Linked DNA regions of Homo sapiens: all the other regions are linked to region 1. Evidence: fine-mapped expression QTL. A gene starts in region 1. Each other region holds a variant in brackets. All regions are shown on one strand. Distances are from middle to middle. Region 1 holds the start of LINC01341 (long intergenic non-protein coding RNA 1341). Region 2 has its middle 22 kb from the start of SCCPDH. Region 3 overlaps SCCPDH (saccharopine dehydrogenase (putative)).

Region 1 (10,433 bases):
CTACCTGTCCCAGTGACAGGATGCTGGGCTGAAGGAAAATGAGGGCATGAATCCAGGCCCTCAGCCCTCCCATACAATTCTCCCAATGATAAGTGTGAGAACACCGTCTCCTGTTCTGTTTCTGGTAATGACAGGCAGGTGCTCATGAGTGTCTTCGTGTGCACTCAATAACCCTTCTGTTAGCAACAGTTTAAAAGGCTATTTTTCGAACTACCTTGGACTATAATACAAAATAGAATAGCATGGAAAATGGTTTTTTAGAATTACAAATTTTCTTAAAACAAGGTCTGACAAGACAGGAAACTGCCAAGCCAAATTCTAGGGGAAAGCCTGGCCCGAAAGAGGCACGTGGAATATCGGGGCACCAGAGCCACTTTGCCCCAGTGGCCTTTGCTGGAAAAAAAAGAAAAATGCAAAGTACAAACACACTGAGGGGTCCCCTCCAAGGCCTCACGGAACATGGCAGAGAAGTCCATGCTGACTCCCTAGGGTGAGGGTCTCACGGGAGACCCTGTCTGCATCACACAGACCTGCAGGAAAGGGGCCGGTCTCTGAGGAGCTGGGCTCCAGGAGGATCCTTGCTTGGTTTCCTCCCTGGGGCAGCATCTTGGCAGCCCCAGCACCTGGAGGGCGAAACCCCGTGGACGGGGTGGTGGATGCAGTGCACAGGTGCTGACCACATGGGACGCACACACATGCTTATAGTCTTAGCTCATTTCACAATTTTTAAAAGCTTTACAAAAATCGGTCTCGGCCCAGAACATTTTGGCAATTTTCGGGCGATGAGCAGATGAGCAGAAAAGTGAAACTCAGAGAAGCTTCAATTGCTGAGCAGGGAGGGAGCAGCCCGGGGTGGGGGCCGGAGGCGCAGTCTGGAAAGGCAACGGGTGAGTGTGCTGGAGCCGGAAGCCTGAGGGCTGCTCCTCCAGGGGCCTGATATGCACAAGGGGTGCTGCAAGATGGGCCTGCATTTCTGTTTCCTCCTTTGGAGGCAGAGGGAGAGGAAACAGGGTCTTAAGTTTCTAAAATGGAATTTCCTGATAGTAAGGTCCAGCCAGTGGAGTTGGTGAAACAGCCTTTTCTGGAGTCCCTAGGAGGATTGCTTTTCTCATTGCTGCAGAAAGGCAGTCTGTGTTCTCACGGGCACATGTACACACAAACACACACTTGCACACACACACACGCACCTACGTGCATGGACAGACACCACTACCACTTGTATAAACTCCCAGGCTCCCTTCTGGTACAAAAGCCTTTGAGTCATACTCAGCATGAACAGATGCTCAGTGCAGGCTAGCTTAGGAACGCTCCCAGGAGCTGGTGCTGTGAGGGAGGGTGCAGGACAGGGAATGGCTGGTGCTGGGAGGGAGGACCCAGGACAGGGAACGGGAGAGTGGATCCCCCTGTTCCCCAGAGCTCCAGCTCATACTTGGAATACGTTTTGCCCTTGACTGGGTCTCCGGAGGCTGCAGCTGGTAAAGATAACCTGTGTCCCCATGGATCCTCACCTCCTGGGTCCCGTCCCCGTGGATCCTCACCTCCTGAGTCCCGTCCCCGTGCGGCCTCACCTCCTGAGTCCCGTCCCCATGGATCTTCACCTCCTGAGTCCCTTCCCCGTGGATCCTCACCTCCTGAGTCCCTTCCCCATGGATCTTCACCTCCTGAGTCCCGTCCCCATGGATCTTCACCTCCTGAGTCCCTTCCCCGTGGATCCTCACCTCCTGAGTCCCGTCCCCATGGATCTTCACCTCCTGAGTCCCGTCCCCGTGGATCCTCACCTCCTGAGTCCCATCCCCATGGATCCTCACCTCCTGAGTCCCATCCCTGTGGGGCCTCACCTCGTGAGACCCGTGGTGGGTCACCTTCACCAAGACCTCCTTCTGTAGGTCATAGCCCCTGGAATCTGACGATGCCAAATTTTTCACCTTCAATTCCATGTTAAGTCCCTGGTAAAAGAAACACTTCTCACTAAATAATTGTACATTCTGCTGGGCACAGTCCCTCATGCCTGTAATCCCAGCACTTTGGGAGGCTGAGGCGAGTGGATCGCTTGAGCCCAGGAGTTCAAGACCAGCCTGGGCAACATAGCAAAACCCCATCTCTACTAAAAATACAAAAATTAGCCAGGCATGGAAGTGCACACCTGTAATCCCAGCTACTTGGGAGGCAGAGGTGGGAGGATCACTTGAACCCGGGAAGTGGAGGTTGCAGTAAACCATGATTGCACCACTGCATTCCAGCCTGGGCGGCAGATTGAGACCCTGTCAAAAAGAAAAAAAAAATCCTACATTCACAGCTCATACCACCTTTGCAATTTATTTTTCATTCTCCCACCCTCGGGCTTCCTAAATGATGAATGAATAAGACTCTCTCTAAGATGTCCCACTCTTGCCCCTTGGATTTCCCACTAAGAGGAAAGACAGAGCACCAGATTTTCTCCATTATATCCTGGAACTAACACTTGGAGTCCCTACCAAATTGATTAAATCTCTTACAAGGTTCCGGCCGATGGGAGCTCACGTCTCCAGGGAGCTGTCCCCAGCCCAGGTGGTCTGTGTGGCACAGCAGCCATCAGGGTGCCTAGACCCGGAGAGGCCCCAGGACCATCTGGGAGGGCCTGCTCATGGCCAGCAAGAGTTGGTCTGGGATCCCGGTGGCCCTGGTAGGCTGTTGGTGAAAGGAATGGTACTCGGGCCTGGGCTGGGCAGTCTGGCTTCTGTGGCTAGTTCCCTGAGAGTCCCTGGGAACGCACCCCTGCCCCACAAGGCCTTGAGGTCCTTTCTGCACCTGGCACACCAGCTCCTGGCTCCAGCTAACTTACCTTCTTTGGCTCTTCACTCATTTGATTTGCTTCTGAACCAGCGGCATCAGTTTGATGTAGTCCTGGAACGCAGCCAGGACACTGGGGCCCGCCTTGCCGTCTCCACCGTCCGCAGCACCTGGCAACAATCACAGTGGAGGCGAAAGTCAGTCACTTGTTCCGCCATGAAGAATTTTTTTTTTTTTTTTTTTTTGAAATAGAGTTTCACTCTCGTTGCCCAGGCTGGAGTGCAGTGGCGCCATCTCGGCTCGCTGCAACCTCTGCCTCCCAAGTTGAAGCAATTCTCCTGCCTCAGCCTCCTGAGTAGCTGGGATTACAGGTGCGCACTACCACACCCGGCTAATTTTTGTATTTTTAGTAGAGATGGGGTTTCACTATGTTGGCCAGGCTGGTCTCGAACTCCTGACCTCAGGTGATCTGCCCACCTCGGCCTCCAAAAGTGCTGGAATTACAGGCGTACAGGCATGAGCCACCATGCCAAGCCCTTTTTCTTTTTTTTTTAGACAGCTGTCTTGCTCTGTCGTCCAGGCTAGCGTTCAGTGGCATGATCTCTGCTCATTGCAGCCTCCACCTCCCAGACTCAAGCAATCCTCCCATCTCAGCCTGCTGAGTACCTGGGACTACGGGTGCAAGCCACCATGCCTGGCTAATTTTTAAAATATTTTGTAGAGATGAGGTCTCACTTTGTTTCCCAGGCTGGTCTTGAACTCCCAGGTTCAAGCGATCCTCCTGCCTTGGCCTCTCAAAGTGCTAGGATTACAGGCATGAGACACCACGCCCAGCCGCCATGAATAAATGTGTATGCTTATTTGTTCATTCATTTGTTCAGCTGTTCATCAAATATCTACATTTTAAAATTACAAGCATGTAATTTAAAAACAAACAAGGGAAAATGACACTGCCTGGCTTCTCCTTACGTGGTTGCTTATCTCGACCCATGAATCCTGGCCGCAGGCAGGAGGTCCTCTGCCCCCAGTTCCCATTCTTGGTCTCAGGGTCCTTGACCCAAGGTGGCTCCAGACTGGAGGAGGGTGGGGCGAGGTGAAACATGGCTGGCTAGACGGAAGGCCTGGAGGTATCCTCAAGCTGCTGCTGGCACAGCAAGTGACCTGTGCTTCTCTTATACTTGGGGTGGCTTGAAGGAGGGGCTCGTGGAGATTATGGGAGGATCAATCTCCCTCCCAAACCCAGGCTGGTACTGCCTCTAATCAGGAAATCTCAACTCTTAGAGACCCCTGGCCTGTGGGTGCACACAGTGCCCTTGGCCCTGAGGTCTGACCCCAAACTGCTCACACAGCTGCTGCCTTGTTGGGGACCCAAGTCTTCCCTAGGGTCCGAGCCAGGGTCTGGGGCTGGTTCAGCTTCATGGCGCCACCAGGGCCACAGGGGCAGTGGCACGGTCAACCTCTGAGGACAGGTCAATGAACAGATGGCTTTTCCGGGCCTGGTATGACAGAGTCTTACTGGTTCGTTGTTTTGTTTTGTTTTGTTTTGTTTTGAAATGGAGTCTCGCTCTGTCACCCAGGCTGGAGTGCTGTGGCACGATCTCAGCTCACTGCAACCTCCTCCTCCCAGGTTCAGGCAATTCTCCTGCCTCAGCCTCCTGAGTAGCTGGGACTACAGGTGTGTGCCATCACATCCGGCTACTTTTTTGTATTTTTAGTAGAGACGGGGTTTCACTGTGTTAGCCAGGATGGTCTCGATCTCCTGACCTCGTGATCTGCCCGCCTCGGCCTCTCAAAGGGCTGGGATTACAGGCGTGAGCCACCGCGCCCGGCCTTGTTCATTTTTAAAAGTCGAAAACTTCAGCAGAAGAAGAGCAAGGAGGTGAATTTCTAATCGATTTATTTTGCTGAAATTCTGAGAGAAACACTGTGGTGTGGGGACAGGGAGGAGCTCTTGCACACACACAGGTGGATCTGCCCACTTTCCACCAGCGGTTTCATTACTGCGAGTTCAGGCAGAGTCCCGGTGCCGAGCAAAGCGTGGGGCCCCTCCGGGAAGCCCGCAGGTCACTCAGATCGCAGCGGGCTCCGGCCTGGCCAGGATTCTGGGGGAGCCGCCCGGAGCGCGGTGAATCGGGGCGGGGAGAGGGGCGGGGAAGGCGCGCGAAAGCCCCAGCAGAGACCGGCAGCGGCGGGCGGCCCGCGTGGGCTACTGCTGGGGGCTGCGTTCGGGCGAGGAGGGGAGATTCTGTCTCAGAGGCCTCGGGCTGCACGTTCTTCCGGGCCGCGCATTTGCAGCCCACAGCAGGCCCCAGCCGGCCCCTCTGGAGTTGGGCCACTGCTTCTGCAGGCCCAGCAGGCCCCTGGGGGCGGCCGGAGGCCACTAACTGGCTTCTCCAGCTCAGCATTCTTCTCTCATTTGCTGGGTACCCCACTCTCTTCTCTACCCCTTTGAACCATCTTTACCCTCATTCCTCAGGGAACGTTTAACGAGTTGAATGTTTACCATGTAGTCACTCTATATGGAAATCATAATTCAATTTTGTAAACATCAGACTTTGACAAAACAAATGATGATGTTCTTAAGGAAAGCAGAGAGACACAGTGTGAAATCGCTGCTCTCAGATCAGCACACGGGAGAGGCCAGCAGTCAGGAGGGGGCTCACCGAGTTTGTCTGCACTCGCTCCCTCCGCAGCCGCCCTCTCCAGCTGGAAGAAGTCGTAATCGAACCTGCTCAGGTCCTCACTGCCCCACTCCGAAGGAAACCCCACGTACAGGTAGGTGCTGTTGGATCCCAAAATCAGGCGGTCCTGGGGAGGAGACGGTGGGCTCAGGAGGGGTTCGAGGCCAAGGAGGGTGAGGTGAACCTCCCCAGTGAGAAGGATCTGAGGAATGTCCTCCCCTCAGGAATCCCCCAGACAGGGAGAGACGCAGACAGGAGGGAGGTGGCCTCTGGCTCCTGCGTTCACCTTCATTGCACACATTGAGGGCGTGACTCCCTTGGCCCTGGGGTTCTGTGGGGACCACCCAGAGCCAGGCCCTCCCTCCACGCTTTCCAGGCTGGTCTGGGTGAGTGCAGCAATGGCTGCAGGGGACACCAGGACCTAACTCAGACTACAGGCTACAGACGGCCTTTTCCGAGGCGTGATGCCCAAGCTAAGCCCTCCTGGGCGGTAAGTCTTGGTGAGGCAGAGACGGCTGCTGAACAACCAAAAGAAGGGCAGTGTGGCCAGGGACAGGAGGCCGAGGGAGGTCACTGAGGGGGCTTTCCAAATGGGGAGCGGCCAATCCCCATCTGCCTGTCCTGTCTGAAAGGCTGTGGCCACCAGGGAGGGGAGAGGGCTGCTGGGAAGCTGGCAGGGGCCCCAGGGTTGGCAGATTGGGGAGGAAGAGGCAGCGATGTTTGCAAGATGCTGTTCAACCCCTCTCAGTGACAGGCTCTTAGAAAAATCTAAAATGGCACAAAATGTTAGAGCTGGAAGGGACCTTGGAGAACACCTAGTTCAGCCCTCCTTGTTTTCCAGGTGAGGTCAGAGGAGTGAAGTGACTTGCCCAAGACCACACAGTGAGTCAGGAGCAGGCCTGTCCCTCCAGCAGTGGTGCCATGTTGTCCCCAAGCCATGGTGGCAGAGGAGCTGGTGTGAACGCCCCATCCTGCCACGTCTGTGATGTGGGCACCTCACATGACTGTCCCCTCCCAGCTCTTGGGGGGGACCTAGGACATTCTGTGAGCCTGCAGGAAAGTTTACCAAATGCTGCAGCTTTGTCCTGGTGGTGATGGGCACCCCGTTAACGGCAACCTTGCATTTGCTATGTGGAGTGACCGTCACTTTACCGTCGGCATTTGTGAAGGAAGCGTGTTTATCTGAAATTCTAAGAAGATGAGAGTCAAAGACACCCAGCAAACGGCGGTTTCCGTGAGCAGGTAGGCTGACCTTTCTCATGTGCACAGGAGGGAAGGTCTACAGCTGCGGAGGATGGCAGGTGGCATCTCGGGGCCTCCTGTGTGCTGTGGCCCATGATGCATGGGGACAGCAGCGGGCGCAGAAGGACCCTGCCCTTGGGGAGCACGGGGAGCTGGGAGACAGCAGGCAAGGGCTTCATTAACAGAACGAACACCAGCTGAGGGCCTAGCACTGCGGGGAGCCGGCCAAGGCCACACTGGAGTCCTCCCGCTCCCAGGCCAGCGGGATGGGGTGGTGGGAAGATGGCAGCAAGCAAGCTTCAGAAGAGACGCTCAGGAGGCGACTCTTAACGAGCCTCACCTACTCCGGGTACGTTTTGATCTGTTTCTGCGCCCTCGCCGTATAAATTCAGACCTTATAGGATTTGGGGCTGGACGTCGGGGTGTCAGGTTGGCATCCCCTCTCCCCGCCCTGCTCCCCTGCACCGATGTCATCTGTGTGTCCTGAATGACTGGCTCCCTGCCTTAGCATGTTCCATGTTCCTGCACTCCTTGGCCATCATGGAATGTTCTGGATGTGGAGACCCGTGTGCATCCAAACCCTTTTTTGCATGGGGCCCAGGGATCCTGTGGGAAAGGTTGCGGCCTCATCACTGGAGTTCAGACATTTACGCACCTGTGCGTTGGACTAAGGACGTGTTCTGGAAAGGGACTTGAGGGGGATCCCCAGGAAGATGTCCCAAGAAGGAGGCTGGCAGTGCAGGACGAGGCGGGGCCAGCCGGCCCCTGGGTCAGCACCCCTCCAGCCACGACGGCCCGTGGGCTTTCGTACGGGGGCAGGGGGTGATCTGTCTGAAGGATGTAGGTGATGGTGCTTCCCAGCTGGAGAGCTGGAAGCAGGAGGAGGACACTCCAGCAGCAGCCTCCCAGGCAGGGCAGCCACAGAGCTGGGGACAGCTCTTGACTGGGTGAGGCCCGGCATGGGGTTTCCCAGGGCTCCTGCGGGGCCTCCTGAGGGAGCCCTTGGGGTCACTCCACAGTCTGGGCTTTCTGTAGTCCGGTGGGTCAGGGCTCCAAGCACCAGGAGAGATCCAGGGATGCGCTTATGTTTGGGCCACCCCCGGTGGGCTTGTTCGTTCAGCCCCCTTCGTTTCCTGGCCTGCTCTACTTATATCTGTTTGTGAAGAATTATTACACAGAATCTAGAAACCAGCTTTCCCTTTTCTCCCAGGGTTGGAGCCCAGGAAGCAAACCAGCACTGCACCCTAGATTTCAGCCAGAGGACGAAAGCCCTGCCCTCAGCTTTCTCAGACCAGCCCTGGAGTAGGTGGCCCGGGGAGACCTGGGCAGTGTCCCTGCTTGTCCTGCAGACTGTGTGGCTCTGCAGACCTCTAGATGGAGGAGGCACAATTCTCTAATGCTGGACGAGGACACTGATCATGGAAACTCACCCCAAACCTTGAATCGTGATAGCATTTGAGGCAGCCTGACCGGTGCCACATGAACCTGAAAGGAATCAAGATATAATTTATTTTGAAAATAAATCAGACACTTTCAGAATTTGAGCGTAAGAAGTTAACATGTCTGATGCGTTGGAAGTGACGTTTTCTCTACAGTGGGATGGTACTGAAGGGATTTTTCCAGTTGGGATTTTCAATCATAATGGTACTTAGACATACTTTTCTTTCTGCCTTGTGTGTGGGGGGAAGAGCGGGGATGTTCCTAACTTTTAAAAAGTTCCACCTTCTTCATGAGCATTCTGGAGGAAGACACCATTAGGTCTGGGCCTTAGGAGACCCACTGAATACTGGCCACAGCAGAGGTTCTGGTGTTTGAAGCTCCGTTTCTGTGTAGTGACTGACCCCAAGGAGTGCAGACATGTCACCCCCCACATCCCCACATCCCACGGCCATCTCGCACGGAGCCCTCGCGGCCGCCCTGGGGGGTGCACGGAGCCCTCGCGGCGGCCCTGGGGGGTGCACGGAGCCCTTGCGGCCGTCCTTGGGGTGCTCGGAGCCCTCGCGGCCGTCCTGGGGGTGCACGGAGCCCTCGCGGCCGTCCTGGGGGTGCACAGCCGGGGAGGGGAAGCCAGGGGCTCCTGCGGTTCTGGGCGCTGTGTTCCAACCTGTTCAGCACTCATTTAGGTCAGGAAGACAATTCAACAGCTGATGCCCTCCTCAGAAACCGCTAAACAAAAATGTAACAAGAACGATGCCAGGATAATAGATGAATAAAACGTGCTGTATACATCCGAGGGAATGGTTTTCAGCCTTCAAGAGGAAGGAAATTCTCACACATGCTACATGGATGCACCTTGAGGACATTCTGCTGAGGGCATAAGCCAGTGAGAGATGGATGAAAAGGTCCTTATCTGAGGTCCCCCATCGTCAAATCCACAGAGACAGAAGGTGGGACACTGGCTTCCAGGGCTGGAGGGGGAGGGGTTATCTGAGGTCCCCCCATTGTCAAACGCACAGAGACAGAAGGTGGGACAGTGGCTGCTGGACTGGAGGGGGAGGGGTTATCTGAGGTCCCCCCATCCTCAAACACACAGAGACAGAAGGTGGGACACTGGCTCCCAGGGCTGGATGGGGAGGGGTTATCTGAGGTCCCCCCATCGTCAAACGCACAGAGACAGAAGGTGGGACACTGGCTCCCAGGGCTGGAGGGGGAGGGGTTAGCTGAGGTCCCCCATCCTCAAACACACAGAGACAGAAGGTGGGACAGTGGCTGCTGGTCTGGATGGGGAGGGGTTATCTGAGGTCCCCCCATCGTCAAACGCACAGAGACAGAAGGTAGGACACTGGCTCCCAGGGCTGGAGGGGGAGGGGTTATCTGAGGTCCCCCCACTGTCAAACACACAGAGACAGAAGGTGGGACAGTGGCTCCCAGGGCTGGAGGGGGAGGGGCAGCTCCCGTTTCATGGGTACAGAGTTTCCGTCTGGGAAGATGAAAATGTACTGCAGATGGATGGTGGTGATGGTCACACAATATGAATGTACTTTATGCCACTGAGCTGTACTCTTAAAATGGTTCAAATGAACTTTATGTATATTTTACCAAAATGAAAAATATTTAAAAAACAAGAAAGAAAAGAAACATGCCTGTGGGGCAAGAAGCATGGGAAGGGCGGGGACGGGGGGAGGGTAGGGGAGGGCGGGGTGGGGAGAAGGCAGGGCAGGGGCAGGGGGAGCACAGGGGGAGGGCAGGGTGGGGAGAAGGCAGGGCGGGGGCAGGGAAAGGAAGGGGGAGGGGAAGGACACGGAAAGGGAAGGGGGAGGGGAAGGGCAGGGAGGGGAGAGCAGGGGCAGGGGGAGGGCAGGGTTGGGGCAGGGGAAGGCAGGAGGGTGGGGTGGGGAGAGGGCAGGGCGGGGGCAGGGGGCCGGCTGAGTACCAGCTTGAATGAAGTACTTGAGCACCCTGGTGAGCTGAGGGTCCTCGCTGAGGTTAAGAAGGTGAGGGAAGGTCATCATCTGCCGCTCCTGCAGGAGAAGTGGAGAGGGTTGGGTGTCACCAGTCCGCACCAGCCCACTGGGGAGAGCAACACTTCTTTCCCGTCTCTGTGCACCTTGTCAACCCTCCTGGGGAGGGAGGAAAGCTGAGAGGGGCTGGGGCATTGCTGATGGTGGGGTGGAGTCTCAGGCAGGCCAGCCGTCAGGAGTCTGAGTACATCTGGACTGGACAGTTCCAAGGAGCTGTCTCCCGGCTGCCCTCCCCAGCTGTCTGCATGCCCCGCTCTGGTCCCCTGCCTGGGCAGCCCCT
Region 2 (10,433 bases), 87 kb before region 1:
GCTGCCCGACATCCCTCGGGAGTCAGAGCAGAGGCGCACACGGAGGGCTCCGGCCTCCAGAGCGTGGCCCAGCGGCCGCAGGGGAAGGGGCAGAAATAAGCCACCTTCTCTCCAGAACGCTGAGCAGCTCAGGAAGCCGCTCGGGAAAGCACCTCTCTGATCCAGCCCCGAAGGCAGTGCCTTCTTTCTGCCCCTGCTGGGTCAAGGTTTTCTCAGCCACACCCTAATCCAATCGGTATTCGCAATCCAACTATCACATGTTTGTTAGGGGTTTTTTGTTGTTGGTTTAAATCTTTCTTTTTTTTTTTTTTTTAAGAGATGAGGTCGGCCGGGCGCCATGGCTCATGCCTGTAATCCCAGCACTTTGGGAGGCTGAGGTGGACGGATCACAAGGTCAGGAGTTGGAGACCAGCCTGGCCAGTATGGTGAAACCCCATTTCTACTAAAAATACAAAAATTAGCCGGGCGTGGTGGTGCACACCTGTAGTCCCAACTACTCGGGAGGCTAAGGCAGGAGAATCGCTTGAACCCAGGAGGCAGAGGTTGCAGTGAACCGAGATCACGCCACTGCACTCCAACCTGGGTGACAGAGAGACTCCATCTGAAAAAAAAAAAAAAAAGAGAGAGAGAGATGAGGTCTCGCTCTGTCCCCCAGGCTGCAGTGCGCTGGTACAATCACTGCAGCCTCGAGCTCCTGGCCTATGTGATCCTCCCGCCTCAGCCTCCTGAGTACCTGGGACCACAGGCACTGCCACCATGCCTGGCTCTCTTATCCTTATTTAATTCCTGTAAACAAATAGATATCAGCAGTCTAATTTGGATGGCTTTGGTCTCAAGAGAGCTAGTAAATGTGTTTGATAGTGCTTACCCAGATATTCCCACTGAACATCAGTTTCCCTGCCTTGATTCTAGCGTGCATTCCTGGGGAGACAGAGGACGTTGCAGTAAACCGGTCTGGTAGAATTGTGTGAGCCAAGGAGGATGGCAGTCCCACTCGTCACTGTGCCTACCTACATGATGCTCCTGCTGGGTGTTCAGAACTCATTCTTACCCAAAGGGCTAGATGATGGTGCAAACATTTCTTTCTTTCTTCCTTTTTTTGAGACGGACTCTTGCTCTGTCACCCAGGCATGATCTTGGCTCACTGCATCCTCTGCCTCCTGGGTTCAGGCAATTCTCCTGCCTCAGCCTCCTGAGTAGCTGGAATTACAAGCGTGTGCCACCATGCCCGGCTAAATTTTGTATTTTTTGTAGAGACGGGGTTTCACCACGTTGGCCAGGCTGGTCTCAAACTTCTTGCCTCGAGTGATCCTCCTGCCTCGGCCTCCCAATGTGCTGGGATTACAGGCGTGAGCCACCGCGCCGGCTGCAAATATTTCTTTACTGATTCCTTAGGTAACCCTTCACCTGTGCTTAGACCACCAAGGGTGGGCACCAGGAAACCCCATCTTCCTTTCCCACTCATTCAGTCTCCACTCTCCCAGCTTCCCTCCCACAGCCTTCTGTGTTTCATTTGCCTTGGACCCACAGATACCTCAGGGAGGAGCACCACGAAGGCAAACCAACCTCTTTCATATCAACATCCATTGCCACCTGTTAGTAAGTGTCAAATGGTGTTCTGCATGCTAGAAGATCTCCCTCCCACGGGGTGCCTGTGAGCCTCCTGCTATAGGAGACAGAATTCTGTATGGCCCATCCAGGGAGGAGCAACCGAAGGAAAAACAGCAACTGTGGTTCTCTGTGCCTATATTGGATTATGTCCCATAGATGCCCCTTACATCTTCTAATGAGGGAGTGGCTAGTGGGGCTCCTATTTGCTAGATGTTTCTGCTGCTGGGCTAAAAACCGCTTAGGTGGCCGGGCGGGGTGGCTCACGCCTCTAATCCCTGCACTTTGGGAGCCGAAGTGGGAGGATTACTTGAGTTTAGGAGTTTGAGACCAGCCTGGGCAACATAGTGAGACCCCCATCTCTACAAAATGAATAAGTAGAGTTTAAATTAAAAAGAGAAAAAGAAACATGCTTAATCTACTTCTGAGAATGATCTCAGGAAGAGAGTGAAACAGATGGGCTCGGTCTCCTGAGGGAGACAAACAGGGCTTCAAGCAGGGCTTAGGCTGGGGACGCTGTGTGGAGCAGAGTCACTGGCTATTTATAGCCCAAACAGTAAGAAGAGTCGTTATGAAAATGCCCAGAGGTGCTTTGATCCGGGAAGTACACAAGCCAATCAAAATACGCCGCCTTCGGGCAAGAGGAGCCGGAGAGCGCCATCTAGTGACCCCACAAGTTCCCTTCCTGAAGGAAGTATTCAGTCCGGAGAAACCAAGACCCACCTCACAGCGAGGACCAGAGAGACACCTTGGTAAGAGGCCCTGGAAACGAAACACAAAGCGAGGAAGGACAGTGCACGGGCCTCAGACGCGAAAAACAGGGGTCGGAGTGCCCATCCTACAGGTTGTTTGATAATTAAATGAGATATTTCCTTTTTATATGAAATGTTTTATGTTCATAAAGATGACAACTAAATAATCTTCATTAACTTAGGAATCCAGCCCTTACTATGTGACACAGTGTGTGCCAATGTATTTATCATTTTGTTTTATGAGTTGTATCTTTTTTTTTTTTTTTTTTGAGACAGGGTCTCACTTTGTCACCGAGGCTGGAGTGCAGTGACACAATCTCGGCTCACTGCAACCTCTACTTCCCAGGCTCAAGTGATTCTCCTGCCTCAGCCTCCTGAGTAGCTGGGACTACAGGCGTGCGCCACCACGCCCAGTTGATTTTTTGTATTTGTTTTGTTTTGTTTTGTTTTGTTTTAGTAGATATGGGGTTTTGCCGTGTTGGCCAGGCTTGTCTCGAACTCCTGAGCTCAGGTGATCTGCCTGCCTCGGCCTCCAAAGTGCTGGGATTACAGGCGTGAACCACGGCGTCTGGCCAACTTGTATCATTTTTGTTATTATAGAATATTTATTTGAAATGTTCTAGTTTGCAGTAATTTGTGGGAGTTTTGTTCTTACTAGGACTTAGGAAAGATATTGCATAAACCACTGCTATTGGGTTCACAGAAAATATAGGAAAAAAAGAATAACAACTATTTTGGGGTTTTTTTGGTTGGGGGTGGTTTGAGACAGGGTCTTGTCGTCGCCCAGGCTGGGGTGCCGTGGCGCCATCACGGCACTCAAACTCCTGGGCTCACTGCAACCTCAAACTCCTGGGCTCAATCAATCTTCCCACCTTAGCCTCCTGAGTAGCTGGGACCGCAGGTGCCTGCCACCACGTCTGGCTAATTTATTTATTTTTGTAGAGATGGGGTTTCACCATGTTGCTCAGGCTGGTCTCAAACTCCTGGGCTCAAGTAATTCTCCCACCTTGGCCTCTCAAAGTGCTGGAATTACTGGCATAAGCCACTGCACCTGGCTCAATAAGAACTATTATGGAAATGACATTTACATTTGTATATGTGCCAGATGTATATGAAATAGAATGAAAAAAGGCCCAAACCCAGCATAACGCACCGTTTCCTGGAATATTAATACATGCCAGGCAGCCTAAAGGTATGTCTCGTGGCAAGCCTGGGTCTGGATGAAACAAAACCTGGATTCCTCACAGTTCTGCATAGATTCTTGGAAGGCAGAGATGAGAGTCACTATCAGGCAACCAAAATATAGTTTTCTCTTATGACTTCGAGTCACCTCACTTATGGAATTTGGAAACTTACATGTGCAGATGACAGTTGGCAACAGCAGAGTGTGTCTCACAGCTAGATGTGGGTGTGTAATTAGCTGGAGGCCATACATGATTAAATCAATATGTTTCATTAGATGTCACATGTTAATCCTCCTTACTCATTTTGAGAATATTTTAATTTTCATAATAAATTATTCTGATTATAGCCGGGTGCGGTGGCTCATGCCTGTAATCCCAGCACTTTGGGAGGCTGAGGCGGGTGGATCACGAGGTCAGGAGATCAAGACCATCCTGGCTAACATGGTGAAACCCCGTCTCTACTAAATGTACAAAAAATTAGCCGGGTGTGGTGGCCGGCGCCTGTAGTCCCAGCTACTTGGGAGGCTGAGGCAGGAGAATGGCGTGAACCCGGGAGACGGAGCTTGCAGTGAGCCGAGATTGCACCACTGCACTCCAGCCTGGGCAACAGAGCGAGATTCTGTCTCAAAAAAAAAAAAAAGAGGATATCCAAATGACCAAAAGACATAAGAAAATGTGATCTATATCATTAGTTACCAGGTAAACACACATTAAAAGTGCAATGAAATATCATTACATAACAACTCAAAAATTAAAAGGATGGGGAATACCAAGTGTTGATGATGTTAGGGAGCAACTGGAACTTTCTCTCATCAGTTACTAGTTGAAGTGTTAACCGAAGCAGCCACTTTTGAAAACTGCTTAGCAGGATCTACCAGAGCTAAACATACACCTACCCTTTACTCTGGCAATTTCACTCCTAGGTATAAATCCAAGAGAAATGAGTACACTTGAGTAGTAAGCCTTGTGTATGAGAAAGTTCAGAGCAGCCTTATTCATAATAGTAAAGCTAGAAGTGTCCCAATTAGCTATCAGCAGCAGAATAAAAACTAAACTGCTCACACGTGTAATCCCAGCACTTTGGGAGGCCGAGGCGGGTGGATCACAAGGTCAGGAGATCAAGACCATCCTGGCCAACATAGTGAAACCCCATCTCTACTAAAGATACAAAAAAAAAATTAGTCGGGCGTGGTGGCGGGCGCCTGTAGTCCCAGCTACTTGGGAGGCTGAGGCAGGAGGATGGCGTGAACCCAGGAGGCGGAGCTTGCAGTGAGCCGAGATCGCACCACTGCACTCCAGCCTGGGCGACAGAGCAAGACTCTGTCTCAAAAAAAAAAACAAAAATCAAAAAACAAAAAGCAAACAAACAAAAAACTAAACTGGCCAGGCACAGTGGCTCATGCCTATACTCCGACCAATTTGGGAGGCCAAAGTGGGTGGATAACTTGAGGTCAGGAGTTTGAGACCAGCCTGGCCAACATGGTGAAACCCCATCTCTACCAAAAATACAAAAATAAGTTGAGTGTGGTGGTGCATACCTGTAGTCCCAGCTACTCGGGAGGCTGAGGCAGGAAAATCACTTGAACCCGGGAGGCG[G/T]AGATTGCAGTGAGCTAAGATTGCGCCATTGCACTCCAGCCGGGGAAACAGAGTGAGACTCCATCTCACAAAGAAAAAAAAAAAGGAAAAAAAGAATAAAAATTTAACTAAAAACTATATTCATATGGCATAGTGTTATACAGCAATAAAAATAAGGAATTACTGATATATGCAGCAATATGGATGAATCTTAGACATTATGCTGAATGAAAGAAACCAGATACAAAAAGAGTGCATACCAAATGATTCCTTTCTTTTCTTGAGACAGAGTCTCGCTCTGTTGCCCAGGCTGGAGTGCAGTGGCACGATCTTGGCTCACTGCGAGCTCCGCCTCCCAGGTTCAAGTGATTCTCCTGCCTCAGCCTCCCGAGTAGCTGGGATTACAGGGATGTGCCACCTCACCTGGCTAATTTTTGTATCTTTAGTAGAGATGGGGTTTCACCACGTTGGCCAGGCTGGTCTCAAACTCCCGACTTTAGGTGATCCACTCACCTCGGCCTCCCAAAGTGCTGGGATTACAGGTGTGAGCCACTGCACCTGGCTGAATGATTCCTTTTATATGAAGTTCAATAAATCAGAATAGTGGTTACCCCTGGAGAGGATGGTGCTGAATGAAAAGGAGTACAGGGAAATCCTCTGGTGCTGGGAACATCCTGTATCTTGATCTGAGTGGTGGTTGCAGGGTGCGTATATATATTAAAATTCAATGATTTCTACATTTCAGGGTAATGTATTTTAAAACTTTATTATATTTATTTTATACCTCAATAAAGAAGAAAAAAAGAATACAGATGCTAACTTGAAGGGAATACTAGTGGCCAAAGATGGGACAATTTGAATATCAAGAAAAATTTTGACTGTGATGTATTGAAACATATTAAACAAATAAAAACCCATTAGTTTATAATGATTCTAAAAATATTACTTGATCTGTTATCATCTTGAAAATTGGTAAAAAGAAAAAATCAGGTATTTTTTCCTGTTTTTCCTTAGCAGTAATATTTCAGAGTAAACAAATAGTTGATGAAGAAATTATTTTCCCAACTTCCAGCTGATAAATACAGAAGGAACAATAGAATTAGAAAACTGCTGGCTGGGTGCGGTGGCTCACACCTGTAATCCCAGCACTTTGGGAGGCTGAGGTGGGTGGATCACCTGAGGTCAGGTATTCGAGACCAGCCTGGCCAACATGGTGAAACCCCATCTCTACTGAAAATACAAAAATTAGCTGGGCATGGTGGCACGCGCCTGTAATCCCAGCTACTCAGGAGGCTGAGGCAGAAGAATCGTTTGAACCCGGGAGGCAGAGGTTGTAGCGTAGCAAGCCGAGATCACGCCACTGCACTCCAGCCTGGGCAACAGAGCGAGACTCCTTCTCTACATAAATAAATAAAAAAGCCTGGCACAGCATGTCTGGGCTGAAATCAAGTTGCGGACCAGGCTGAGTTCCCATCTGGAGGCTCCGGGCAAAATCTGCTTTAAAACTCATTCTTGTCGTTGGCAGAATTCAGTTCCTTGTGGTTGCAAGACCCAGGTTTCCTGGTTTCCTCGCTGGCTGTCAGCCAGGAGCTGCTTCAGCTCCGAGAGGCTCCCTGCACTCCCGGCCCTGGGGTTTCCTGTATCTTTAAGCCATCAAAGACACATTGAGCCCTTCTTGAAATTCACATTTCTGGCTTCCTCCGTCTTGATCTCTAGACCAGGATTTAAATGGCTAGGCCCATTTGAGTAATCTCTCAAATTTCAGATAAATTTATTTGAGACCTTAACTACATCTGTGAAATTCCTCGTCGTTGAAGGTCACATAGCCACAGGAGCGGCAGCTCTTCACATTCACAGGCTCTACCTACATTTACGGGAAGGAAGTGACACAAGGACAAGGGTCGTTTGGGGATCACCTTAGAATAGTTCCTACTAAAATCACCAATGCAGGCGGTGGCTCACACTTGTAATCCCAGCACTTTGAGAGGCCAAGGTGGGTGGATTGCTTGAGGTCAGGAGTTTGAGACCAGCCTGGCTACCATGGCGAAACCCCATCTCTACTAAAAACACAATAATCAGCCAGGCATGGCGGTGCACACCGTAATCCCAGCTACACGGGAAGTTGAGGCAGGAGAATCGCTTGAACCTGGGGGGTGGAGGTTGCAGTGAGCCAAGACTGCACCACTGCTCCAGCCTGGGCGACAAGAGCAAGACTGTTAAAAAAAAAAAAAAAAATCACCAATGTAGTATTCTTGCTGAATTTTTAAACCTGGATCCAATTCTGAGGATACAGTCAGACAAATCCAGATTGTGTGACATTCTACATGTCAACTGGCCTGAACTCTTCAAAAATGTCAGTCATAAAAGATTTTTTTAAAAGAGGTTACTCTTCCAGATTCCAGGAGGTTAAAGAGACATGACAACCAAATGTATAATCCTCGATTGAAGATTGAAGCCTGGATTTTAAAAAATATTATGAGACATTTTCAAGACAATTTGAAATGTGAATATATTCCAGCTATTAGTTCATATTATTGTAACAATGTTACATTTCTTCAGTGTGATAATGGTGCTATGATTATGTAGGAGAATGTCTTTGTTCTCAAGAAATAAGTGAATGCTAGAAAATTTTAGGGGCGAAGGTCAGTATATTTGCAACTTTTAAATGGTTCAGAAAAAAATATATGTATGGAGATAGAGAAAAACAGTGGCAAAATGTTAACAATTAGTGAATTAAGAAGAGCATATGGGTATTTATTGTATTATTATCATTTTTTAATCTTTCTGTGGACTTGGAGATTTTTTTTTTTTTTTTTTTTGAGATGGGGTCTTGCTCTGTCATCCAGGCTGGAGTACAGTGGCATGATCATAGCTTACTGCAGCCTTGAACTCCTGGGCTCAAGTGATCCTCCCCTCTCAGTCTCCTGAGTAGCTGGGACTACAGGTGTGCACCACCACTCCTGGCTAATTTTCCTATTTTTCTGTAGAGTCAGGATCTCATTATGTTGCCCAGGCTAGTCTCAAACTCCTGGGCTCAGGTGATCCTTCTGCCTCAGCCTCCCAAAGTGTTGAGATGGCAGGCGTGAATGTGCCTGACCTGACTCGAAGATTTTTTAAAAAATAAATCTCAAAGAGAAAAAGAATGTGGTGTAAAACCATCTTAATGGTAAACTTATTTTCCCTTTCTCTGTTTTTTTCTATAGTGAGGCCGTACTGAAAGAATGTGATGTAAAACCGTCTTAGTGGTAAACTTATTTTCCATCTCTCTGGTTCTTTCTATAGTGAGGCAGTACTGAAAGAATGTAGCAAGTGAGTTGAGCAATTTCAGACATTCAGACAACGCCCAAATATCTTGTGGGAAATCTTTTCTGCCCATAAACATAAGTCAGAATCTATTTTCTGGAAGGCTAAATAACCAATTACTTATTGCTATGATTCATAAGTAAAGAAAGACACTACTTTCCCTCCCCCATTATCAAAACATGATCTAGTAAAAAAGTTTGGAAACTCTATTTGTTCACCAAGATTTTGCTTCCCCAGACCTTTATGTTTGCAATGGCCATAGAAGTAGTTCAGGTTCACGTACTGATATATACAGACAGGCCCAAGCCATACTTCAATAAACGTACCATAGATGTGAAATACAGGATAGAGAGCAAGAGCTTTTGGCACGGTAATCTTAGATGTGGAAATTTACTCTAATACGATTATTAAGAAGGAAAAGTTATATAAGAATATGTATAGTGAGCCAGGCGCGGTGGCTCACGCCTCTAATCCCAGCACTTTGGGAGGCCGAGGCGGGCGGATCACAAGGTCAGGAGATTGAGACCATCCTGGCCAACATGGTGAAACCCCGTCTCTACTAAAATTCAAAAAATTAGCCAGGCATGGTGGCATGCACCTGTAATCCCAGCTACTTGGGAGGCTGAGGCAGGAGAATCGCTTGAACCTGGGAGGCAGAGATTACAGGAGGTTGCAGTGAGCCGAGATCACACCACTGCACTCCAGCCTGGAGACAAAGCAAGAGTCCGTCTTAAAAAAAAAAAAAAGTGACAAATTGGAAAAGGTCTAAATGTACATCTGTAGGGAAGTACTTAAATTATGTCTACCAGTACTATGTGGATTTTTTTCGTTAATTTGAATATAATGTGAAATCAGAAAAAAATGGCCATCAAATAATGTTAAGGATATTTATTAAGTGCACCAAAACATTATATTCTATACCTTAAACATATACAATTTAAAAACGTTAAGGACCCAGCCAGAGCAATTGGCAAGAGAAAGAAATAAAGGGTATCCAAATTGGAAATGAGGAATCAAATGGCCTATTTGCAGACAATATGATCTTTGCAGTTGATCCTTAAACAACGCAGGTTTGAACTTCACAGATCTACTTATACGTAAACTTTCTTCCATCTCCATCTCTGCTGCCCTTGAGACAGCAAGACCAACCCCACCTGTTCCTCCTCAGCCTACTCAGCCTGGTCCCAGGTACTTGGGAGGCTGAGGTGGGAGGATCACTTGAGCTTGGGGACGTGGAGGTTAAAGTGAGCTGAGTTTGCACCACCATTTACAATAGCTACAAAAATAAAAATACCTAGAAATAAATTTAACCAAGGAGGTGAAAGATATCTATCAGGAAAACTTTAACACAGAGATGAAAAAAATTGAAGGAGACACACACACACACACACACACACACACACACACACACACAGGAAAAAAAAGGGAAAGAAATAGAAATAGAAAAAAAAAAGTCACCTAGCAGAGGCTTGCAAAGGTGCAGATTGCCCTCAGGGATTTGGTAGATACCAGTCCTCCTGCCCCTGGCTGCAGTGCAGAATGTACAGGAATGGGGAAGGTCAGGGAGGATTTCATTCCAGGGCTTTAACCTTCCACTTCTCCAGCCTTTCTCCCTCCACCCAAAAAAAGATTGAAAAAGCTAAGAATAAAAGGTAGAACACCAAATTGTATTCACATTATACTTTTAAACATGTATAAACGATGAGCACGTGTGAATAAAGATCAGAAAGACCCAAAAATAATTGTAAATCTTTGGTGGGATTGTGGGCATAAGTCTTTTGATAATTAGAAGTTTTACTATTACTGTTTCCTCCGCCATGCTAAAAATCCACGTGATCAGGAACTATCTTGTTCATCTTTGCAATACCAGGGCCTACTTCAGGCTTGAGATGTTTATTTAAGAAATGAGTGGAGAAATGAATGAATGTATGAATAAGATGTTTTAAAATTAAATAACATTTTTTAAAGGAGATTTTCTTTTCTTTCTTTCTTTTTTTTTTTTTTTTGGAGA
Region 3 (10,433 bases), 35 kb before region 1:
TGCACCCTGTTAAGTCTCCAAGGAATGCTAACTTTTCCGTCTGCCGTGAAAGGCACGAGGTGAAGTTAATATCAGGCTGGAGGCCACATGGCCCTCGGGGGCTGACCCACAAGGCTCTTGACCTCAGGGAACAGCAGTGAAAGAGTCTTGCATGACTCATCGCCTCGGCTGTAGGGTTCTGGAAGAGAGCTACCACACAGCTCATGCCCAGTCATGAGAGAACCACCCAGGTGGAAAGGGGACAGTTTGGGTATCTGGCCTGCCTGTTGCACAAGCATAACCGTCGCTTTTGTTTAGCGTGCAAACAGAATATTTTATCCATTCCAGCCAAGCATTTGCATCCAGATACCCTGTTTCAATTGCTGTAGTTTGTTTTAAATCTTTAACCTCTACAGTAGCTACATAGGTTTTATCATTGGGTATATAATGAGAGAAAGTTTGGTTAGTGGAGAACTTAGACGAGGGAGAAGGGGGTGCAGGATGTGAGGAGGCAATGAAGTACATTTCAAAGGATCCTATGGGGTCCTTCCCTGAGACTTCTCCTACACCACAGAAATGGCCTAATGAAGGGGAAGAACTCTGGGGAGCAGCAGTCGTCATCTGTGCTGGATTACATTGGTTCAGCTGACCATGGGGAGGGGAAACTCCTTTAGTAAAATGAATGTATGGTTTTAAGAAGCTGCAAGTACTAGTTGGGGCCGTCCGTCCTTGCTCTTTGGTGTTTTATAGAGCATCGGACAAATTTCGGCAGAGAAGCTCTGCTCTAGGAGGACAAGATTCCCAGTTCATACTGGACTCTTTGTCAAAGTCCTCCCAAACTAACTTATCTCAGTTAACAGATTTCCAGTCTGAGGAGAGCTAGGAAGGATAAAGATACTTTTCTAAAGTGTAGATTTGCCTCTGGTTTGACAAATCTTCACAGGGCATCAGAAGGCAAGCGTCAAAAGTAATGGTTTGGGGTGAACTTGACCTAGTTACACTAGTAAAGAGAGGACTAGCAATAGAAGGGGAAAAGAAAGAGATGCAGTATAGGAGGTTCAAACCCATTTTCGCTTTAGCTTGGTTGGAGTTGGCCCTGGAATAGCTGTCCATGATTCTGGAGGGGGTGGTGCTCTTTGGACCCAGGTGTAATGAGTCCATCCTCTTTCTGCTGTTCGAACCGCGGTCTTGGTGCTTAGAAGCACTAGGTAGGGTCCTTCGAAAGCGGGTTCGAGTTTTCCTTCCCTTTAGCTTTTGACAAGGACACGGTCCTCATGCTAATGTTGGTGTACTGGAAACTCTAGCGGGGGGGTACCTGTGCTGAAAGACCTATAGTTCTGAGGGACGAGAAAGTGGAAGATAAACCAAACATACAATTTCTGAGGAACTGATCTTTTGTTTTGACTGTGGGAATGTCAGCAGTGGAGTGCAAACAGGGCAACCTATACAACACTTCGTAAGGGGATAAGCGAACATCTTTCCGAGGGGCAGTTCAGATTCTAGGCAGGGCAATGGGATGGCAGCTAGTCCATGGCACCCGAGTCTCTAGACTAATTTGGTTAGGTGGCTTTTTTAGAGTTTGGTTCATTCTTTCCACTCTTCCTGATGAAGGTGGGTGCCAGGGAGTATGATATTCCCATGTTATATCCAGTACCTGGGCTAATTTCTTAATGACATGTACAGTGAAATGAGTCCTATTATCTGAGTCAATGCTTTCTATTAATCTAAACCTGGGTATAATATTTTCAACTAATGCCTTGACTACATTACTAGCAGTTGTACTTGAAAAGGGAATAGTTTGTACCCAACGAGTAAGGTGATCTATTATTACTAATAAATACTTTAGACGACCAATTGGAGGCATCTCTGTGTAATGAATCTGGATACTTTGGAATGGCCTTAAGCCTGGACTCCTTCCCCCAAGGGGTAATCTTTTTATAGTTTGTTTATTGGTTTTCTTACATACTGAGCAACTGTCTGTAACCCGTTTGGCCGGGGTATAAATTCCTGTGCACCCATAAACTCTGAGGACTGCGTCACACATGGCGTGGGGCCCCCAGTGGGTCCCTTGACGCAGCTGGAACAACATTTCGCTCATAAGGGGTTTGGATAACATTTCTCTCTGGTCTGGCAGTATCCATTTTCCTTCAGAATTCTCTTTAGCAACTGTTTTTATTAATTTTTTAGACCAAAGAAACCCAAATGCCATTTTATATTTGACAATTAGCAGATCAGCTAAATGTCACCTTTCTATTAGTGTGCTATTAATGTTAAACTCAATTTTAATAAAACCTTTTAGACATATTTATCCAATTTTAATGTCTGACCATAAGTTTTTTATAGACTCTTTTTAACCCTTTATAATTTTTGTTAAAGAACAGGTTAGTACTTTAAGAAAAACCTGTTGTGCTTTTATTTTAATGTCCAGTTTACAGAAACTTTAACCAATATGTTTACACACAGAATTTCCTTTACAATTAACTTTTCAAACCTTGCTTAAACCTTCAAAACAATTTTTAACCTTTTAATGTAGGTAAAAATCCACATTCTTATGCCTCCTTATAATCCTTTTACCAAAAGTATATTTTACTTTCCTTACACACCTTGCACATAAACTGTTTCTTCAATAGTTTTACATTCAGGAGGCCTAATTACTTTTCAATTATATGACATTTCTTGCATAAATTCCCTTTTATAACATTTTTCACGACTTTCACAGACGACCTTTGACATGCCTTAACTTTCTGACTTGTCGTAAATATCCCTTTCTTTAAACAACCAGTTAATTTACTTTAGGACAAGAATTTACCATATAAGATTCTTTTTACATAAATTCTCCTTTTTTTTTTTTTTTGAGATGGAGTCTCGCTCTGTCGCCCAGGCTGGAGTGCAGTGGCGCAGTCTCAGCTCACTGCAAGCTCGCCTCCCGGGTTCATGCCATTCTCCTGCCTCAGCCTCCTGAGTAGCTGGGGCTACAGGCTCCCGCCACCACGCCCGGCTAATTTTTTTTTTTTTGTATTTTTTTAGTAGAGACGGGCTTTCACCGTGTTAGCCAGGATGGTCTCATCTCCTGACCTCATGCTTCACCCGCCTCGGCCTCCCAAAGTGCTGGGATTACAGGCCTGAGCCACCGCGCCCGGCTAATTCTCCTTTTTTTTTAATGTCAAAGATGATAACCATTCTTTTCCAAAGCACACTGCCTTCATGTCTGTGGACTAGACTGCCTGAGGCCACAAGATTAGAAGTTAGGATCATACATGTTAGACTTAACTTTTAGCAAACTTTACTTTTGTTGAAAACCTTGTAAGTTTGGGATTTTAATTATGTGCTAGGTGTAGAGCCTAGGACCTAGACAGAAGTGCAGATGAGGTCTGGCTTCTCCTAGCATTTAACTCCATGTGTCCTAGGTTTTCCCTAGCTGCAAAGCAGGCCAGTTGTACAGCTAAGAAACGGTAGTCTGTTTGGCTATCTGATTAATAGCTCTAAGTTCTTGCACTAACCAGTATGACCCATCTGGCTTCTTTACAGGCAGAATTTGAGTGTTATAGGGAGACATACAGGGTTTAAGCAGCCCGTCACAGAGAAGACCTTCAATTATCAATTGTAGGTTTTAAATTTACCCTCACTTTTAAAGGAATAGGGTATTGCTTTCTCTTTTCTACTTCCCCAGGGGTTTTTAATTTTTTTAATTTAACACGAATCGGAGGAATCTGTAACTTTCCTCGATTCCTGTCTTTTGACCATACCTTGGGATGAATGTGTTCTTTGTCTGCGGTGGGGAGCAAGTTTAGGGAGGGGAGGAATTTTCCCTAATCAATATAGAGGCGTAAGCCAAATTTTAGTACTAAATCTCTCTCTGATAAGTTTGTTCCTGCCTCTGGAATTAACAGAAATTTAATATGAACTGATTTGCTTTTATATATGACTTTTGTTCTTTTTCCCATTTGGGACATTGTCTTTTGAAGTGACCTATTTTTAATTCGAAACATTTGTTTTGTCCTCTTTCTCTCCCTTTGCCTCTTCGTCTGTGTCTCTGTCTCTCTCTCTCTCCGCCTCTCTGTCTCTTTCTCTCTCTTTGCCTCTCTGTCTCTTTCTCTCTCTCTCTTTTTCTTTGACTCTCTCTCTCTCTCTTTCTCTCTCCTTGACTCCTTCTGTTCCCTGTCAGTCTTTCTCCTCTAGGATTTTTTTTCTCTACCTTTGAGTCTCCTGGCTTTACTCTTTCATCCTCTTTATGTTGCCTGGAGAGTGGGGGTCTAGGTTCTTTACAGGTTCTGGCCCCCTGGGTACTTTGTTGTATGGTAGACAGCAGAATTTTTGCTTTCTGCTTTTTTCTTCATCTCTTCTTACATACACTTTTTGGGCTTCTCTTAGAAGCTCTTCTATAGGTTTATCTTTCCAGTTCTCTATCTTTTGTAATTTCTTATTAATATCTGGCCAACTGTTAGTGACAAAATGCAGTTTTAACATTCCCTGCCCAAGAGGATCCTCGAGACCTAGACCAGCATATTTTCTCATTTGTTCCTTTAATCTAAAAAATTTTATAGGTGCTTCATCTTTCCCTTGCTGTACATAAAATGTTTGGGTAAGATTCTGGGATACTGATTCTTTAATCCCCTTTATTATCAATTCCCTAAGGTCCTGCATATTTTCTTGAGGGGCTGCATTGTTATTGTCCCACCTGAGGTTTTGGGCGGGAAATTTTTGATCCGCTGTAGGAACGTTTTGGCCAGAAGGGTGTTCACGTTCCAAGACTCCCATAGCAGTTCGACGGATCGTGGCTCTTTCTTCCCCCGAGAAGAGAGGAAAGGGAAGTTCTGAAAATCCTTTTTACATTGCTCTATCTCACGCTGAAGTCCTTTTAGGGAAGAGGACTTAACGCTCGTAGTGAGTGGGCTCCTGGGACAGTTCCCAGGAGGCAGGGTTATAAGGAGGGGGACAATGGGGATAGGAGAAGGGTCTGGGACAGCAGCTGCTTTTTCTTGTTTTTGGTCCTTTCATTATCCTTCTAGTATTTTAACATGAGACCTAGGGGGCACTCAAGGGGAATATCCTTGTTATCTTTGTCCTTCTTGGTCCCTGTCTTGCTTGGGGTATTTCCCATATTGGGTCCTGGTTAGGCCCCATCTCTCATCTTAGAGATGTGTCTCCTATCCTTTAGCCCCACCTGCTGGAGGCTCCTCGCATTCACACACACTTTCAACCCCCGCAGAGTATCCCGACCACCGAGGAAACGCTTGGCTGCTCCTGTGGTGTTTCTTACCTTGGTCTGTGCACAGAGTTACCTGGTCGCTGCGGTGTGTGATGATCCCTTTCCCCAGGTCGCCAGCCAGTTTCTTTCTGCATTGCTGAGAGTCCGGGTTTATTTGTCACACCCGGTGGGTCTTGATTCCTTACCCCTGAGGCCACTGCAACAAGGCAGCGGGGCATGCCTCCTCATGGGAGAGGACCAGACCCTTCACCAAAGGAGAATGGGAATCCCGGGCGGGCCCCCAAATTTGTTAGAAGTAAATTTTCAGTGCCGCAAAAGAAATAGCACTTGAACATAAATTTTTTCAACTAGGCTGTAGCAGGATAAGCTGCAGACAAAACCCCTCAGACACCAAGTTAAAGAAGGAAGGGCTTTATTCGGCTGGGAGCTTCGGCAAGACTCACGTCTCCAGCAGTCGAGCTCCGCGAGTGAGCAATTCCTGTCCCTTTTAAGGGCTTACAACTCTAAGGGGGTCCGTGTGAGAGGGTCGTGATCCACTGAGCAGACATGTGTCCGTTTCACCTAGGTTATCTAATTTGTTGGCATACACTTTTCATAGTATTCCTTTATACTCCTTTTTATTTCTATAAGGTTGGTAATAATGTTCCCTCTTTTATTCCTGATTTTAGTAGTTTGGGTTTTCTTTCTCTTTTTTTTGGTCTGTCTAGCCAAAATGTGTCAGTTTTGTTGACCTCTTCAAAGAACCAACTTTTAGTTTTGTTGATTTTTTCTATTCTGTTTCATTTATTTCCACAATAGTTTTTATTGTTCCTGGATATGAAATTAATATAAAAATCAGCTGTATTTCTGTATGCCAGCTACAGTTAGAAGGTGATTATTTTTGTAAAAAACACCATTTATGATAGCATTAAATAAATCAAGTACCTAAGAGTAAGTAATAGAAAGTGTACAAGATTTCTTTGAAGAAAACTGTAAACCTTTATTGAGGGACCATAAAGAAGACATAAATTGAAGGATCCAGCGTATTCATGGATTAAAATATGAATCCATTTTGTAGTTAATTTTCTTCAAATTTGTTTATAATCTCATGCAATTCCCATCAAAATCACAAACAGGTTTTTTTGTTTGTTTTGTTTCGATGTGCATCT[G/T]GACAAGCTGTTTCTAAAATGTATGTGGAAACTCAAAGGGCTGAGAACAGGCAAGATATTCTTGAAAGAGAATAAGGCAGAAAGACACTCTTGGAGATCAAGACCTGTTATTAAGTCAGCATAAACCCTTGACATATGGTAAAGGGGCTTTTCCTATCATTTTTCTTTTCTTTTTACAAATCCACTTTTACTGGTATTTATTTACTTTTCATTAGTTCAAATCCTTGAGGAGTACAGCATCACAGAGCCGCCGTGACTAGTGGCCTAAGCAGGACGGCTGCTTTGGAATTAGGCACACATTGTGCCACTGTTTCCGTGGGCACACGTTACCTTTCTCCACCTTACTCTGGTTTTGTTTGGTTTGCTGCCAGGAGTCAGTATTATTCTTTGTACACATAAGCGCATTTCCTGCCCAAATCAAATCTCATTTTATGTCAGCCATAAATACCTTCAGTTTTAAGAAGAGCTGTGTCCTCCCTTTGGTTCTGGAGATCCTGCTGACGGCAAAAACGGCCTTGGACCACAGCTTTCCAGGCATACTTGTCATTTAGAATTCCTCCTCCCAGCAGGCCTCCGGGCTTCAAGTTGGCAGGAACAGCAAGGGGGCTTTTCGGTAGATGCTGCTGGGACAATTGAGTATCTACTTGGAGAAAAAATGGAATTGGATTCATACTTTTGCACCCCGTACCAAAATCAAGTTTAGATGGATTGTGGATGCCCTCACGGTTGGGAATGGCTTTTACAAAAAGACAAAGAGGCATTAAATGTAATGAAAAAGTGATACGTTTGTGTACTTTTAAAATTGAGAATGTTTCCCAAAACACACGATTAAGAAAGTCAAAAGGCTAGCTGCAATGTAGGAGTTACTTACAACACGTGGTAAATCCTGACATCACAATTTTGAGCATAAGAAGCCAAACACTCAGTAATAAATCTTGCTTGATTGCATTTCTGTAGAGCTTAGAAACAGGCAAAACTAATTGTACTGTTTAGGGATGAATTCTTAGGTGATTAAACTCTAAAGAAAAGAATTTTTCTTGATTACTGTAAAGGCAGGACGGAAGGAGGGCCTTCTTAGTTGCTGGTTACCTGTAGTTCTTGACCTGGATGTTTACATGTACGTTGGCTTCATAACATACATGAATATACAATTTAATAAAATTGTATTAGGTACGTCTCTATATTTTTCTGTGAAACGCAAATAGTTTTTTAAATTGAATGTAATTTTTTCCTTTTCAATGGCTTAGTTGTATAAGAAAATATGTTTAGATTTTTAAAAAGCTGTTTTCTCCTGGTGTTTGGAATCTTTACATTTGTAGAGATTCACATAGGCCCTTTTGGCTAGGCTCAGATTGAGTAGATAACAAATCAAACCTTTAAGACTTTAGTTCTGTTGTAGTTTTAATAAAACAGAAGAAATAAATCTGTACCAGAATGAAAGTTAGATTTGGTATCTCTGCTTTTCAGTATCATCAAAGCTGAGATAGGAAAACCTGAATCTTTGGATGGTTTTATTGTTTCTCTTATTTTGTTTATTAACAATGAAAGGTACCTTCATATCTGCCTCCCACATATCCCTCTTTGAAAATCTTGTGACAGAATTAGTTTTGAATCTTTCTGAATTACTCTGTTGACCTAAACAATGTAAACAACATAGAAGGAAGGACATAATACAATTATGTACAATCAATATAATAAATGAAGTTTATTCCTGTAATAGAGAATTAAAAGGCCCACCTAGAGGTTGGGAAAGAAAGGTCAGTGCTAGGCCGGGCGCGGTGGCTCATGCCTGCAATCCCAGCACTTTGGGAGGCCAAGGCGGGCGGCTTGCCTGAGGTCAGAAGTTCGAGACCAGCCTGGCCAACATGGTGAAACCCCGTCTTTACTAAAAATACAAAAATTAGCCAGGCATGGTGGTGGGCACCTGTAATCCCAGCTACTCGGGAGGTTGAGACAGGAGAATTGCTTGAACCTAGGAGGCAGAGGTTGCAGTGAGCTGAGATCGTGCCATTGCACTCCCGTCTGGGTGACAAGAGCAAGACTCTGTCTCAAAAAAAAAAAAAAAAAAAAAGGGCCAGCGCTGTGATAGTAAATTCAGAGGTCGTGTCCTCTCCTGGGGTCTCAGCCACTCGTTTCTCGGTGGCGCTAGAGGTAAGGGTTGGGGAAGCTGTAAAGAGTATTGGTAGAATGGAAGGCACTGACAGCCCAAAGTCTCATGAAAGGATGAAAAATCAGTGAATAAATGAGAGTCTGAGTAAGATCAGGCAAATACTAAGGACTCTGTACTGGCTGTGATACCAAAAAGAAATCAAGGGATTGAGGAAAGCAATTAAAATACAAATCATTATTAGTGAACTTTAAATGTTTTAAACAATTATTTTACTAAGACTTCAGTAGGAAGACAGATCTATAACTTGGGGCTAGAGTAAGAGGTGTTGGAGGTAGACGGGGAACCAGGTGTAACAGGATGGAGAGATGGACAGTACACAGTGTATGTATGCATAAATGTGCACACGGACATATCCAGAAATGTTGAGGAATTTGTGTAGGATCGAGAGAGGATTAGGGTGGCTATTCCTGCAGATCATATGGGGCAGAAAAAAAAGGATTAGAGTGGCTGATCTTGAAGGAATATGGTCAATTAGTTGAGTAAAATTGATGAAGTAAAACTAAATAACTTATTACAGAATATAAAGAATGATAGGAGGGGAGAAGAAAGGGCTTCTCGGTGTAAATATTGGGTATGATCAAGCTAATGAATGTGACTGCTCCCTAGCTGGTCATGAAAATTCTCCTCAAGATTATTAAATCAGGGATTATGTCTTGTCCAAATATAAGTGAAATATTGTTTGTAACAATGATAAGTTACTTGGCTTTACATTTTAGTAACTACCCTTTCATGTTTCTTTAACTCTTGAAATATTTTATTAGGGGTTGAGCATTCATGATGGTACCTGGAAGTCAGCAATTTATGGTTTTGGAGATCAGAGTAATTTGAGAAAACTAAGAAATGTATCAAATCTGAAACCTGTCCCGCTCATTGGTCCAAAATTGAAGAGAAGGTAAATTAACTTAAAATCCATTTTTTATATATCTAGTCTAAGTATATTGTTGTTGGGTTGGCTATTAATAAAGTATGTTACTAAGAAAAGCTTGGAGACTAATTTGTAGTAAGTTCAGAATTGTTTTCACAGATAAATAAGATATAATTAATCCATTACCATATGCTTGAGATAAATAAGATATAATTAATCCATTACCATAAGCTTAAGATAAATAAGACATAATTAATCCATTACCATAAGCTTAAGTACTTCGTGTGTAATAAAACATGTGAATCCTAGGAAATAAGTGAATCTTATGATGACTTTTCACTATCAATATAGAAATTAACTGTCAACTAAATTTTATGTGAGAACTTTTTTTCTTTTTTAAAAATTTATTTTAGTTTAGTTTTATACTGCAGGACATATGTGAGAAGTTTAGAGGTAAGAATTTAGGGTTGGGCTGTTGAAAGGAGCGTTCTGGTTTTTTTTTTCTTTTGAGACAGAGTCTCTCTTTGTTGCCCAAGTTGGTCTCAAAGTCCTGGCCTTAAGTGATCCTCCTGCCTCGGCCTCCCAAAGTGCTGGGATTACAGGCATGAGCCACCATGCCCTGCCACTGATTTGCTTATTCAGACATTTACCAGCCAAAGTTGTAATTGCAGGAAATGCAAAATATTCATAGGTCTGTCTTGCAGGTGGCCAATTTCTTATTGTCGGGAACTCAAAGGTTATTCCATTCCTTTTATGGGATCTGATGTGTCTGTTGTAAGGAGGACTCAACGTTACTTGTATGAAAATTTAGAGGAATCACCAGTAAGTATATATGGTTTATTTATCAATAAAGTGTGTGTTACAGTTCCTCTTTCTATTCAGTGTGGGATATTTTTGTTTATAAGGCAGAAAAAGGAAGAGCTAAGTAATACATGTTTCAGCCTCTGGAAATACACAGAATCATTAGGGTAGAACATTTTGTATTTTATAACCTTGTCTTTTGATTCAGATCTGGCTGCTGAATATCTTTTTAATGTAACACAATAGCAGCAAATTCAATAC

The links.
Region 2: its variant is fine-mapped to the expression of LINC01341 in hypothalamus (GTEx, PIP 0.98).
Region 3: its variant is fine-mapped to the expression of LINC01341 in tibial artery (GTEx, PIP above 0.99). The same link has a PIP of 0.9 or more in adrenal gland, caudate, lung, pituitary and prefrontal cortex.

The regions. Positions count from the first base shown.
Region 1 is chr1:246,784,155-246,794,587 of GRCh38, forward strand. LINC01341 (long intergenic non-protein coding RNA 1341) reads left to right here and starts at 5,463. Exons shown (of 2, transcript NR_015422.1): 1 at 5,463-5,544; 2 at 6,292-7,332. It also overlaps the pseudogene KIF28P. RefSeq lists a silencer at 4,704-4,783 and an enhancer at 10,139-10,433.
Region 2 is chr1:246,697,080-246,707,512 of GRCh38, forward strand. No RefSeq gene overlaps it. Among named protein-coding and RNA genes, the nearest start is that of SCCPDH, 22 kb to the right of the region's middle. RefSeq lists an enhancer at 1,972-2,401. The variant G/T (reference allele first, on the strand shown) is at 5,141.
Region 3 is chr1:246,748,959-246,759,391 of GRCh38, forward strand. It overlaps SCCPDH (saccharopine dehydrogenase (putative)), which reads left to right. Exons shown (of 12, transcript NM_016002.3): 6 at 9,268-9,398; 7 at 10,076-10,193. It also overlaps the pseudogene RPL35AP6. Among named protein-coding and RNA genes, the nearest start is that of SCCPDH, 30 kb to the left of the region's middle. RefSeq lists a silencer at 5,064-5,214. The variant G/T (reference allele first, on the strand shown) is at 6,337.